2 linked regions of the Homo sapiens genome follow. The protein of the gene in region 1 purifies or fractionates together with the protein of each later gene. This does not show direct contact. Each region holds a gene or a part of one and is shown in the gene's direction. Other genes may lie near its edges. The genes, in order: OR4E2 and SHTN1.

Region 1 (2,490 bases):
CATTATTCAGCTCCCACTTATAAATGGGAACATGTGATGTTTGGTTTTCTGTTCCTGCATTAGTTTGCTGAGGATAATGGCTTCCAAGTCTATCCATGTCCCTGCAAAGGACATGATCTTGTTCCTTTTTATGGCTGCATAATATTTCATGGTGTTATGTACCACATTTTCTTTATTCATTCTATCATTGATGGGCATTTAGGCTGATTCCATGACTTTGCTATTGTAAACAGTGCTGCAATGAGCATACATGTACATGTATCTTTATAATTGAATAATTTATTTTCCTTTGGTTATATACCCAGTAATGGGATTGCTGGGTCAAATGGTATTTCTGGTTCTAGATCTTTGAGGAATCACCACACTGTCTTCCACAATGGTTGAACTAATTTACAGTCCCATCAACAGTGTAAAAATGTCCCTTTTCCTCCACAACCTCACCAACATCTGTTCTTCTGTTGTTTTTTGGCTTTTTCATAATAGCCAATGGTATCTCATTGTGGTTTTGATTTGCGTTTCTCTAATGATCAGTGATGTTGAGCTTTTTTTCCTGTTTGTTGGCCACATAAATGTCTTCTTTTGAGAAGTGTCTGTTCATGTTCTTTGCCCATTTTTAATGGAGTTGTTTGTATATTAATAGTAAACAATGAGGTGAGGAGAGTACACTTGAATAGAGTGTATGTTTTCTGAGCAGAGGGAAAAGAAAAAGTAAAGACAAAGATTTTGGAAGGTAAGTAGGTGGAGGTAGGATGCCTGGAGGACAGTGACTTGCTTGGTCAGAGAGAAGAATTAATAGGGAGAATAAAAGGACACTCACATTGAAAAAATGAAAATGTGCAGCAGACTGTTGCAGGCTTTGAATGTATATCTAATTTGATAGAAGAGTCAAATTATTTAGTTGGGAGTTGTATTGGAATATTAGCTTAATGTTATCAGTGCTTTAGTTTGAAGTGAAAAGAGCCAAATAACTAATGTGTAAGGTTTCGGGCATTTATTTATTCTTGTAAAGGCTCACTGATCTCATCTGCAAGGCAGAAACAATTGATTCATGTGCCATAGGGTGGTTGTGTTTAAATAGAAGTGCCTGGCATGGCTCCTGGTAAGTAGTGGGTATACTGTAACAACTACTGTTAAATTGATTTCATAAGCTATATGCTCTGATGATAAATAAGCAATTCAGATAAGAATACAAAGTCATTTCAATTAGTTCTATTCCTATAATAATAAAACTAAATTAGCTTTCATTTTTTCCCCCCTAAGCTCATTGAATGGACAGTCTAAACCAAACAAGAGTGACTGAATTTGTCTTCTTGGGACTCACTGATAACCGGGTGCTGGAAATGCTGTTTTTCATGGCATTCTCAGCCATTTATATGCTAACGCTTTCGGGGAACATTCTCATCATCATTGCCACAGTCTTTACTCCAAGTCTCCATACCCCCATGTATTTCTTCCTGAGCAATCTGTCCTTTATTGACATCTGCCACTCATCTGTCACTGTGCCTAAGATGTTGGAGGGTTTGCTTTTAGAAAGAAAGACCATTTCCTTTGACAACTGCATCACACAGCTCTTCTTCCTACATCTCTTTGCCTGTGCCGAGATCTTTCTGCTGATCATTATGGCGTATGATCGTTACGTGGCTATCTGCACTCCACTCCACTACCCCAATGTGATGAACATGAGAGTCTGTATACAGCTTGTCTTTGCTCTCTGGTTGGGGGGTACTGTTCACTCACTAGGGCAGACCTTCTTGACTATTCGTCTACCTTACTGTGGCCCCAACATTATTGACAGCTACTTCTGTGATGTGCCTCTTGTTATCAAGCTGGCCTGCACAGATACATACCTCACAGGAATACTGATTGTGACCAATAGTGGAACCATCTCCCTCTCCTGTTTCTTGGCCGTGGTCACCTCCTATATGGTCATCCTGGTTTCTCTTCGAAAACACTCAGCTGAAGGGCGCCGGAAAGCCCTGTCTACCTGCTCGGCCCACTTCATGGTGGTTGCCCTCTTCTTTGGGCCATGTATCTTCATCTATACTCGGCCAGACACCAGCTTCTCCATTGACAAGGTGGTGTCTGTCTTCTACACAGTGGTCACCCCTTTGCTGAATCCCTTCATTTACACCTTGAGGAATGAGGAGGTAAAAAGTGCCATGAAGCAGCTCAGGCAGAGACAAGTTTTTTTCACGAAATCATATACATAATGGGCACTGGGATTGCAGACATAATTGCAGCCACATCCTTAATGAAAGAGCAAAAGTAAAGAGTCAAAATCAACTTATATAACTTGGTAAATTAGGTAAAATGGCATAGAGCAGGTCAGATTTCTGCTCATTAAAGATAAGAACTTATTCTGTTCATTAAAGATAAGAACTTATTAACTATTATTTAAATAAAGCAAAAGATCATAGTGGAAGTTATAAGGAAAAATAACGTGGGAAAGTTTAAAGACAGCTTTTGATTTCATCAGTAAAAGAATACAAT
Region 2 (3,836 bases), on another chromosome or scaffold:
AGGGACACACAGGAGGGAAGGGAGTTAACTGGCTCCATCCAGCTAAGTGAGGGCGGGTGGGGGTCTGGGCAGCAGGCTGTGAGAAGTTCACAGTTTGTCCATGAGCTTTACGCTTCCTGAGAAGAGAATGCAATTAAGCAGGTAGGTGCATTTGGCTTTTTAACACTTCTGTAGTTAATCGCTCTTTCTCTGCCTTCTTTCTTCTGGCCTTGTGCTCCTAGTATCAGCTGTGTAATCTGATAGCTTCATTTTTTCTTTTAAATGGCTGGCATCTCAAAGACTACTATATGCATGTTGATTAGACTTAGAACATTTTGGGTTTTATGTTAGTCTGAATCCAGAATATCAGAGACAACTATTTTCTCTCTCTGCTTTTTACTTTTTTTGTCTAACTCTTCATCTCATAGGCCTCCCAGTAGCATTGGATGCAGGAAAAAATACATTGACGGTGAAAAACAAGCCGAACCAGTTGTAGTTTTAGATCCTGTTTCTACACATGAACCCCAAACCAAAGACCAGGTTGCTGAAAAAGATCCAACTCAACACAAGGAGGATGAAGGCGAAATTCAACCAGAAAACAAAGAAGACAGCATTGAAAACGTGAGAGAGACAGACAGCTCCAACTGCTGATCCATAAACCAGAAGCCTGACATGTTTGGAAGTCCTTTTCAATAAGCACATGATTAGTGTTGTTATATTGGCAAGGGCTGTAGACATTCTGCTCTGGTCACTGTATTCAGAATACAGGTTCTTTTCTGGTGTCACTTTTGTAAGTAGCAACTATAAACATAAGTAAGCTGTTTAGCAAAACACACATTCCTAGTAGGTTTTGGTTTTTTGATCTTTATAAAGATGAGGTTTTTTTCCTAGTTACTGTATTAAGTATGACTTCTTTTAGAAGGTTACAAAAAAATTCAGATGTTGATACCTTTTTAGGAAATGTGCATACCACTCATCAAATGGAATGCTGAAAGTTTGAGGTGCTTGTATATAATCGGATAAACAAAACTGATCAACCCAATGTGATTTTAAAAGCCCCCAAAGAAGCTTCTGTTTTGGGTCTGATCCTCTTGATGGAGAAACTGCAGCAGCATGGAAATTGTTGGGTACTGTGGCATACAAGTTATTTTCTACAGTAGACTGAGATAAACTGAAAACTCAGGAGCTGGCATCAAACTCGTAGTCCCATAGTCAGTGTTAATTACACACATTGTTAACTATTGGATGAAAAATACATGCTATTGATTGTGTCCAAAGCCTCCCGAGGACCTCCGTGGGGATGCTCTGGTAGCCTGAATACAGAACTGAGGTGAAAGTCCAAACCTTGAATTTTACAGTAGTAAGTTGGTAAACCATGTGCTCTGTGCTATGAGTTAATTATGTTTTCCCAAATACTAATGTGGCACAAGTACCATATTTTATCAGAGTTCTTATGTACAGTATGGTGAAGATAAGTGACAAGCACACATTTTTCTTGCTTCACTGCTGTTCTATATTACACAGGTTTGTTGTTGTTTTTTTTAAAAAAGAAATTAAGCAGTAGTTAGTCTCTAAAAATACAATGTTTCAGGCTACCACAGTGAATAAATAGAAATGTAATCAGGGATTAAAAAAAAAACTTATGCAGCTTTTCAAAGTTGATTGTTTCAAAATTGGTGTTTATTTAAAATAAGTGGTAATGTACTTGAATGCACTTTTTATGACAATGATTCAGTAATGGTAATTTTACTATTAAAGAAAGTGAAAGGTTTAGTTTTGTTAGCATGGCTCAGCATGTAGCTGTCAGGTGTTTTTCACCTAAGGGCAAAAGAAAATGATAGTAATAATTGCAGTAGTTGTATTGTATTGTATTTTTGCACGTGTGGTAAGCATAGGCTTGAAGAGGTGGGTAGGCAGGTACATGTACTTCCTAAATTTGGAGATAATTATCTTTCTGTAAGTTCGTTATGCTTGACTGTTTCCATGTTCTCCCAATAATGATTTTATAGTTACTTATCACTTTACTCATGGAGAATTAAAACGTAATGTTTTTCAACTGTATCTTTCTTTAACTGGATAATACTGCTATATGATATGCTTACTACAGACTGCATTAATTCACGAAACGAATTCTGTTATGCTGTAATTTGAACTCTCCTCACCACAACTTATTAAAAAGGCACCAATAGTTTCCCATTAAGGGTCAGTTGTGGTTATTATTAACGTTTCTGGTTTAGTTCCCCAAGCTTGACATTCTTTAATAGAAAATTGTATATGATTTGACAACTTTAGTAATTTTTAATAGTCCCTAAGATGGTTTATTGAGTTTTCTTTCATGTTTCTTTGTGCTGTCTTCCTTCTTGCATCTGTGATCTGTCTGCCAGCATGCAACTCACACACATTTAGGAATATAAAAATATGTACACTGTCTTTCCATATTTCATCACACCATCACAGAATAATATGGTTATCAAAATACCCTCCTTTCTAGAGTAAGAAGTTGCCCTTTGGGTGAAATGTGTTAGCTGGACTAGGGAACAATTAGTAACAGGTATTTTGAAAGTATTCCTGCCTTTTTTAAGCTGCTTACTTTCTCTCACTGTGATTACAAAGCATTTTAAATTAATTTGACATGAAGGTATTTGATGGAAGATATTCACTCACCTTTTTCTGCCTACAGTTTTTCCCTTTTCACTTTGGTTTTGAGGGGGTTTTGCCCCTGGCTGGGGTGACACTGTCAACCAAAGCAAGGGATCCCAAATAGGAAGACATAGGAGAACCGTGCTTATATCTGCAAGGTATGTTCATAGCTATTGCACACACAAAACTTACATACGTCCTGCTTACACAATTTTAAGTTGGAAAAGACTGCATCTTTATGTTTTTGATTTCTCTAAAAGGTTATTTATGCTTCCTTCTGTTTGGGAAAGATAAATTAAGTCTTGTGCGCTATAGAGGATTTTTTTTCTTTAAGAAAAACGAATGTTGATGCATTTTATAGCCCGAGTGAGGAACAGAGATAGAGGTACTTTGTGCCATTGCTATTAAAGAAAAAGAAAATGTCTCTTTTTTTTTCTGGAAGAATAAGATTTTAATTAAAGCACTTGCACCCTTTTGTATGTGAGCTGGTCTCAAACAAAGTCCTCACCCACAGCAGTTTCAGCAGCTGAACAGTCCCATGGAAGTTCTGACTGGCAGGCATCAACAGGGCTATTAGCACCCAGCATAGTTTGCCCTGAGTACGGAGGATGGATGCTTTGGCTCTAACTACTCACCAATAATTGCTCCTTCCTTACCTTCTTTGTTAATGGTAAACTGCTGGAAATGGAGTAGTACAGGTAACAATTATTTTTAATTGTCTTTCCAGACCAGTTTTTGGTTGTGTGTTCAGTAAATGATAGTCTGTATCACAGCCTTCAAGTCTGGATTATTTTTCTAAATGCATACTCTACCTGTTCAGTTACACTCGTTGTGGAACAACATTAGCTTATATACCAGTAAGTTGTCGAGAATGGATAACCATCTGTCATTATCACTGACCTTCAAAGACTCATCAAGCAGTCCCTGCATAAGGATTGGAGTGGTTTGAAGTTTCTCTTCCAAGCACTAACATGTCCCTATCCCACAGTCATTTTAATTTGGTATGTGACTGTTTCTTTCATTTCTTTCACAGATAATATTATATATACAGTTATATAAATATATTTCATATTAAATGTTATATAACACAAGAGAGAGAAAGTATAAGTAGAAAGAGTGCCTAGCACCCTAAGAAATTTAAATTAAAATGCTAATTATCCATTGGTGAGTGCAGTCTCGAGGATAGGTGAGTAAACTGCTCTGTGTTGAAGTCACAC

Evidence for each region.
Region 2: the proteins of OR4E2 (region 1) and SHTN1 purify together in Homo sapiens (affinity purification with mass spectrometry, with the first as the bait; one large-scale study listed by BioGRID). This does not show direct contact.

Annotation. Positions count from the first base shown.
Region 1 is NC_000014.9:21,663,815-21,666,304, forward strand, and holds part of OR4E2 (olfactory receptor 4E2), read left to right. Parts: intron 1-1,260; 5' UTR 1,261-1,268; coding exon 1,269-2,210; 3' UTR 2,211-2,490.
Region 2 is NC_000010.11:116,883,138-116,886,973, reverse strand, and holds part of SHTN1 (shootin-1), read left to right. Parts: intron 1-407; coding exon 408-630; 3' UTR 631-3,836. UniProt on the Homo sapiens protein: Involved in the generation of internal asymmetric signals required for neuronal polarization and neurite outgrowth.